2 linked regions of the Homo sapiens genome follow. The protein of the gene in region 1 purifies or fractionates together with the protein of each later gene. This does not show direct contact. Each region holds a gene or a part of one and is shown on either strand. Other genes may lie near its edges.

What was found.
Region 2: the proteins of NPTX2 (region 1) and RGPD5 purify together in Homo sapiens (affinity purification with mass spectrometry, with the first as the bait; one large-scale study listed by BioGRID). This does not show direct contact.

Annotation. Positions count from the first base shown.
Region 1 is NC_000007.14:98,623,676-98,627,492, reverse strand, and holds part of NPTX2 (neuronal pentraxin-2 precursor), read right to left. Parts: intron 2,572-3,817; coding exon 2,327-2,571; intron 329-2,326; coding exon 149-328; intron 1-148. UniProt on the Homo sapiens protein: Likely to play role in the modification of cellular properties that underlie long-term plasticity. Binds to agar matrix in a calcium-dependent manner.
Region 2 is NC_000002.12:109,800,614-109,804,430, forward strand, and holds part of RGPD5 (RANBP2-like and GRIP domain-containing protein 5/6), read left to right. Parts: intron 1-1,169; coding exon 1,170-1,237; intron 1,238-2,818; coding exon 2,819-2,930; intron 2,931-3,365; coding exon 3,366-3,518; intron 3,519-3,817.

The sequences.
Region 1 (3,817 bases):
CAGCTGGGGCCGGGAGCAGGAACAGCTGCAGGCCTGGCCTCGTGCTGCTCAGTTGGCCCCTCCTCGCACCATCCCTGAAAGGGCGCACGGCCACCCTGTGCCCATCCTGCACCCACCCTGTGCCCACCTGCACCTGCCCTGCACCCACCTGCTCTTGTCCAAGGATCAGCACGCCCCCGGGCTTGATGGGGTGCCAGGGGGCCAGGTTCTCCCCAGTGCCCAGCTTCTCTCCGTCCTGGAATGCCTCCCACATGCCATCCCGTGTCGTCCAGGTGACACAGATGTGGTGCCACTTGCCGTCACTGACAAACAGGGGCAGCTGCGCAACCTGTGAGCAGCAATGTGCAGGTAAGGACCTGCTGGGCCCACGCCCTCAGGGTCCCCCAGGGCAGGAAGCAGGAAGGACACCCCACAGTCCCCCTGGGCCACACTGCTCCTCCTGTCACCGGGGTCATGCGTGGAGAACATGCAAGGGGGCAGCCTTGGTGGAAACCCTGACCCCAGAGCAGCCCTCACATTAATGGGACACCCTTGGTGCCTGGCGTGGCTGAGGACCGAACAGATGTGAGGGTCAACACCCCCACGCTGGCCCTGAGCTCTCCATGCCAGAGAAACTCGGGAAGTCAGCGTTCCATGGGGCCAGTCTCCTTGGAAAACAGACGAGAGATCCTCATTCCTCATGCCAAGTCCCAAACCTCCATGATGGCACGCAGGGATCTGTGTGCTGCGGGTGTGCCCCGTCCTCCCTGCGCAGCGGCACGTGTGTGAGTATCTGTGTGAGCAGGGAACTCACGGACAGCGTGAGGAACTGGGGGGAGGACGCTGCCACTGGCCGGGTCCCTGGCGGTCCTGCAAGCACTTTCTATGCAGGCTCGCCTATGAACCACCGCGTTGTTGCTGCTGGTCTCCTAGCAACCCGAAGCCTCCCTCCCAGGAATTCGATGTTTACAAGCCGTCCAAACCCAGAGGACAACAAGGCTCTTAGCCCCACTGTGTCATAGGGTGTTATTTAGAACAATTATTTAACCCCTGGCTCAGGCAAGGGGGTCTATCTAGGAGGAGCCCAGCAGGCTGATGCCACAGCGTTTTTTAAACCTCGACAGACTCCACCCAGGGCAGTTCAGTGAGGACAAACAGAGTGAGGGGCTGAACTGCCCCCGCCTCCACCAGGGGTGGCCCGGGTGGCAGGGAGTTTGCGTAGCCACTCAAATGCCCAAATCCGGACAGGTTCTGAGAATGTTCTTTTTGTTATATGGAGTCTGCCATTAGAATGAAAGTTTGGAAGCAGGGCTGTGAGAGGTCCCCAGGAGGCCCAAAGTGGCCTTTTTTTTTTTTTTTTTTTTTTTGAGACAGGGTATCGCTCTGTCACCCAGGCTGGAGTACAGTGGTGCGATCATAGTTCATTGCAGCCTCGACATCCTGGGCTCAAAGCCATCTTCCTGCCTCAGCCTCCCGAGTAGCTGGAACTACAGGTGCACACCACCACACCTAGCTAACTTTCTAATTTTTTGTAGAGAAGGGGTCTTGCTATGTTGCCCAGGCTGCTCTTGAACTCCTGGGCTCAAGCAATCCTCCTGCCTCGGCCTCCCAACACACTGGGATTACAGGCATGAGCTACCATGCCCAGCCCTTGAGAAGACCACTCCTGAATGCCAAAACCAAGCAGTCTATTAAGAAGGGGCATTTGCTCTGGAAAAGGCAAGACCATGGGTATACATAACAGGTCAGCAATGGCCATGGGCTGGGGCTGGGATCAGAGTTAACTATGAAGGGGTATGAGGGGGTTTTGGGGGGTGATGGAACTGTTTTATATTTTTTCATCGTGGTGGTGGTTACACAACTGTGTGCATTTGTTAAAACTTCCTGAATTGTACATTAAAATGGGTACACTTTGCTGTATGTAAATTATATCTCTAGAAACCTGACCCCCACCAAAATATGCTTGTGGGGAGTCTCTTACACTGAGACACACACACCCCCTTAATCAGTGTGGCCCTGGGGAACAGCCCTCACTGACCGGCCTGAGGTCCTCTCTCAATCCAGGCTGCACACGGAGATCTGTTCCTTCTGCCCTTCCATGGCCTAGGTGCCTGGACCTTCTGCAGCTTGGTGGTTGGACTCACAGCTCGGCCCCTCCCCACCCCGCCCCTGTGAGCCGCCCGGCGTGTGCAAAGCTATCCCCACCTCGAGGAGGACAGCCCCGCAGTCCCATGTCTGGGACACTGCTGTGTGGCCCGAGGAGGGCGAGGACGGCTGGGGTGGGGGCTGTGGCTCCCTCCACCACATGATGGGTTCTGGGGAGGGTGGCGGTGCAGGCGGGCCTCACCTTGTCGTTGATGAGCAGCTCGATGGGGTTGTTGCCCCACTCGATCAGCACGATCTCGTTGGCCTGCCCTGGCACCGCATAGGAGAAGGGGGTGCCAATGCCTGGTGAGGCGCTGGACCGCAGCCACAGGCAGATGGTGAAGGCGTACAGCTCAGGCAGCGTCTTCTTGATCTTGCCGTATAGGTAGTTTGTGCGGAGTGGGAGGGACACCTTGAACGCATCTGGTGACTTAAAGGCGCTATTGCCTGGGGGTTGGGAGGAAGAGAGGCCAGGAGTGCGTTAGGCCACCCCACCACCCACCAGCACGGCCCAGAGCCACATCTTGCTAGACCCACAAGAAGGTCCCTCACACAGCCTTGATGGACCCTCCAGCAAGCGACCAAAGACCGCTCCACACCAGCCACTGATAAAAGGCTGAAGTCTGGCAGGATTCAGGACACAAGATGGAGTCCTTGTCCTTAGGGAGCTTACATTCAGGCAGGGAAGGTGACATGAAACCAGCAGCAGGTACGCGAGGGAAGTCCAGGCAGTGGCTCCTGCTAAGACGGGGAGTGGCCGGGGGAGGGAAGGCAGAGGATGCAGGGAAGGCCTGGAAAGACCTGCAGAAGAGAACCCCAGACACAGGTGACAGCAAGTACAGGGCCCCAAGGACGCCCAGAAAAGGAAAGAAAAGGAAGATTTTGTGGGCACTGCATGGGGCACGTTAGAGAATTTAGCTCCATCTTTTAGGACAGGAAAAGAGGCCTCTTGAAATCTAGAAGAAAAAAAGCTCTTGGATGGGTGCAGTGGCTCACACCTATAATACCAGCATTTTGGGAGGCCGAGGCAGGAGGATTGCTTGAGGCCAAGAGTTCGAGACCAGCCTGTGCAACATAGCAAGACCCTGTCTCTACAAAAAATTTAAAAAATTAGCCAAGTGCAGTGGCTCATGCCTGTAATCCCAGTGCTTTGGGAGGCTGAGGTGGGAAGACTGCTTGAGCCCAGGAGTTCAAGAACAGCCTGGGCAATACAGCAAGACTTCATCTCTACAAAAAATATAAAAATTAGCTGGGTAGGGTGGCACACACCTGTGGTTCCACCTACTCAGGAGGCTGAGGTGGATCGCTTGAGCCTAGGAGGTCCAGGCTGCAGTGAGCTATGATTGCATCACTGCACTCCCACCTGGGTGACAGAGGCTCTGTCTGGTTCCTTCTAGTTAATACTCTCTTTTCATAAGTCATATTAGGTGACTAGAAAGCTTGAGGAAGGAGCAGAAGAAAGGTAGATTTAATTTTCTTGTGTTAAGCCAGAAACTGCGTCCTTAGCCACATCTTATAACTTCAGATATTTCCTTGAAATCTTCGCAGGATCTAGGAACCCTGGAGACTTGGGCTTAGAAGAAGGAAGTCTTACAGGGACCCAGGCACCCAATAAACACTTGTCAAGTGAATGAGTCTGTGTCACTCCTCACATGAAAGAATTACCACTGCCGAGGTGAAGCAGTCAGGCTCC
Region 2 (3,817 bases), on another chromosome or scaffold:
CAGCATTTTGGACTTTGGAGTTTATGTAACCAAGGATCCAGGCTGTGGACCTCGTTTATTACTTGAAGAATTCAATATTTATTTCTGCCTTTTTGACTCCTTGACTGTAAAATACTGATCTGATCTGTAGAGAGAACAGTACATGGACCCGGGAATCCTCAGTGCCTTAATAGATCCTAAGTACTTACTTATTCTTTCCCATAGAGGCTTACACATGGTAGGAGAAGAGATTTCTGGAATACCTTTCCTCCCCAAAGAAAGCTGGTTTCTTTTGTTTGTTAAGTGAGAGAGTGGTACCACAGGGTTTCCAAGATTTCCAAGGCTGATGAAAATTCTTAACTTCTGTTGTCTGCTTGTCTTGCTTTCTTGAATTTATTTTTTGTATGTTATGTATTTATTATTTAGAGAGAGGATCTCCCTGTGTCACCCAGGCTGGAGTGCAGTGTTACAGTCATAACTCACGGCAGTGTCAACCTCCTGGGCTCAAGTGATTCTCCTTCCTTGGCCTCCTGAGTAGCTAGGAACACAGGCATGCTCCACTATGCCTGGCTATTTTTTTCCCCCTGGAGACAGGATCTTGTTGTGTTGCACAGGCTGGTTTCAAACTCTTGGCCTCAAAGCTAGCCTCCCACCTTGGTCTCTGAAAGTGCTAGAATTAAATAGAATTAAAGGTGTGACCAACTGCACCCAGCTTATTTATGATGATGATGATGATGATGATGATGATGATGATGATGATGTTTGGGAGATGGAGTCTCTGTCGCCCAGGCTGGAGTGCAATGGCACGATCTCAGCTGACTGCAACCTCTGGCTCACTGCAACCTCCACCTCCTGGGTTCAACTGATTTTTGTGCCTTAGCCTCCTGAGTAGCTGGGATTACAGGCACCCGCCATCATGCCTGGCTAATTTTTCTATTTTTGTAGAGACGGGGTTTCACCATGTTAGCCAGGCTGGTCTCAAACTCCTGACCTCAGGTGATCCGCCCACTTCGGCCTCCCAAAGTGCTGGGATTACAGGCATGAGCTGCTGCACCCAGCTCTATTTTTTGTTTTGTGGTAGGAAATTATAAAACATGGAATTATGCATTTGTCAGGCTTTAACTACTTTTGAAAAAATGTTGGAAAATATTTCTGTATGAAACGTAAAACAACTTTTAATTTTTTTTTAGAAGTCAATGAAAGGATTCTATTTTGCAAAGCTGTATTATGAAGCTAAAGAATATGATCTTGCTAAAAAGTAAGTACAAACCGTAACATGTATTCTTTTTTTTAAAATCAATGCCTTTTCTCATTTTCTTCTTTGAAATAGGTAAAAATATGTCCTTAGTAGTTCTTCCTAAGTGTATTCTGGAATAAGGGATTTATCACTCAGACTGATGCTAAGGACCAGCCTAGATTCCATTGAGATTGAAACTGTAATTAGTGTTTTCTGCATGCTGCTGCTTTATACCAAGGGCAAGAAATTGTTTGGCTTAAAACACTTTTTCTAAAAATTGTCTTCTGTTGGAGTAAAAGAGGACCATGCCTATATCTTAATTTGTTTTTGGTTAGATATCTGATACCTTAATCAGATGGAAAATAGCAATGAATAAAAAATTAAACTGTAATTGTAAGGCAGGAGAATAGCTTGTATAAAAGATCTTTAACTGACACAATATGTGATGCTCTAAGGCTCTATCCTAGGGATGAGAAGCTTGGTGATTCTGATTTCCTGGCTGGGAGTGGATTAAAGCAGGAAATTAAGAGGGAGGCAGGCTTTTTTTTTTTTTTTAGGCAGTATCTGTCTCTCTTGCTCCGGCTGGAGTGCAGCAGCTGGCTCCATCTTTGCTCACTGTAACCTCTGCCTTCTGGGCTCAAGCGATCTTCCCACCTCAGCGCCCCAAGTAGCTGGGGATACAGATGCGCACCACCACGTGGACCTGGCTAAGGTTTGCATTTTTTGGTAGAGACAGGTGTCACTATGTTGCCCAGGCTAGTCTTGAACTTCTGAGCACAGCAGTCTGCCTGCCTCGGCCTCCCATAGTGTTGGGACTACAGGTGTGTGTTACTGCTCCCAGCTGGGAGGCAGGCTTTTAAAGGCATCCAAAGGAAGATGGAAATGCTGGTAAGAAAGGAAAATGGTGGTACATAAATTATGTAACTAGCAGCACTGTGACTGTTAACTCTTGTACCTTTTTACTGTGAGACTTTAATCCCTTAGTTTAGGTCTGGCCTAATTTCTCTGATCGTAATACTGTCAAGGAACCTAGAGGATATTTACTTATTTTAGTTGTTACTTGATTTGAGAAATGGAAATTTCCTGTATTTGGTACTGTAATTAGTAATTTTTCTTCTGTTCGATTTTAGCTGGATATAGTACTGTTAGAAATTACTTTCTTGCTTAAAGGGTAAATGTATTTCCCTTTGTTGTTTGGGAAATTGTTGCTGTTTAGTATTTTGCATTATGATAACTTTAAAAATGTTTATTATAATCACTTCTAATTTATTGGCAAAACTGTTAGTGCTTTATTAAAATGTGATCAGGAAGAAAAAGCAATCTATATGTTCATTTCTTATGTGTGGTTAACACTGGAGAAAAATTTGGTAAATGTGACATTTAATGGTAAAATGAGTATGTGGTCAACTCTATGTACGTGTTTTTAAGTATTACCCATTTCTTTCTATGAATACTTTTGAGTTATCTGCATAAATAGTGGTAGTTTTGAGTAACAATATAAACGAGTTTAGTGGTTGCTTTGGTTTAAGATGTATTCTTCGGTTAGCATTTAAAAGTACAGTTCTAAGTTTAATTTACTTTTGTATTACTTTTAAAAAACAGATACATATGTACTTACATTAATGTGCAAGAGAGGGATCCCAAAGCTCACAGATTTCTGGGTCTTCTTTATGAATTGGAAGAAAACACAGAGAAAGCCGTTGAATGTTACAGGGTAAGTTATAAGATTCAAATATAGCCTTTGCGTAGCCAAACACATGATGCCCAGAGAAATTTATATAAGTAAGTCAAATATATTTTATGAATATCATAAAACAGGCATTGGTATCATAGTACAATTATGTGATACAGCTTGGAACAGATTTAGAATTGTTTAACACCTATAAATTGTAAGTCTAACACGGTCAGAAATGGTGTTCTTTTGTGTTTTTTGCATTCAAATGACACAAATATAATTTTTATTTGATTCATTTCTAGAAAATTCCAAGACACTTTTATTTTAACACCTTTAAAGTAACATGTTTTCTCTAGAAGTAGAATTTTTTAAGGGTTGGAGTGATAATTTTTAACCTTTATGTATAAGTATATATACTCCTACATACATACATACAATTTATTTACTAATCTTTAATTTCTTTTCTGATATTAGCGTTCAGTGGAATTAAACCCAACACAAAAAGATCTTGTGTTGAAGATTGCAGAATTGCTTTGTAAAAATGATGTTACTGATGGAAGAGCAAAATACTGGGTCGAAAGAGCAGCAAAACTTTTCCCAGGAAGTCCTGCAATTTATAAACTAAAGGTAAACAAACAAAACATAAAGGGAGAAAACTTAAGACATAACCATTTCTAATATTTGGAGTTTAAATTACTTTTCAATAGCAAACCTTAAGCTCAGGTGTTTGTGTTTCCTTTAACATTTTTCTTTTAAAAAGTGTATTAAAACCTTTCTGAGCATCTACTGTCTTATTAGGCATTGTTATACTTTATAAGTGACATCTCATTTACCCTTCTGGAATAATTAATATTTTAGGGATTTTACAGTTTAGTAGCTGTAAACTAAGTAGAGCTAAGATTTACATTAAGTTCTGTCTGATATAC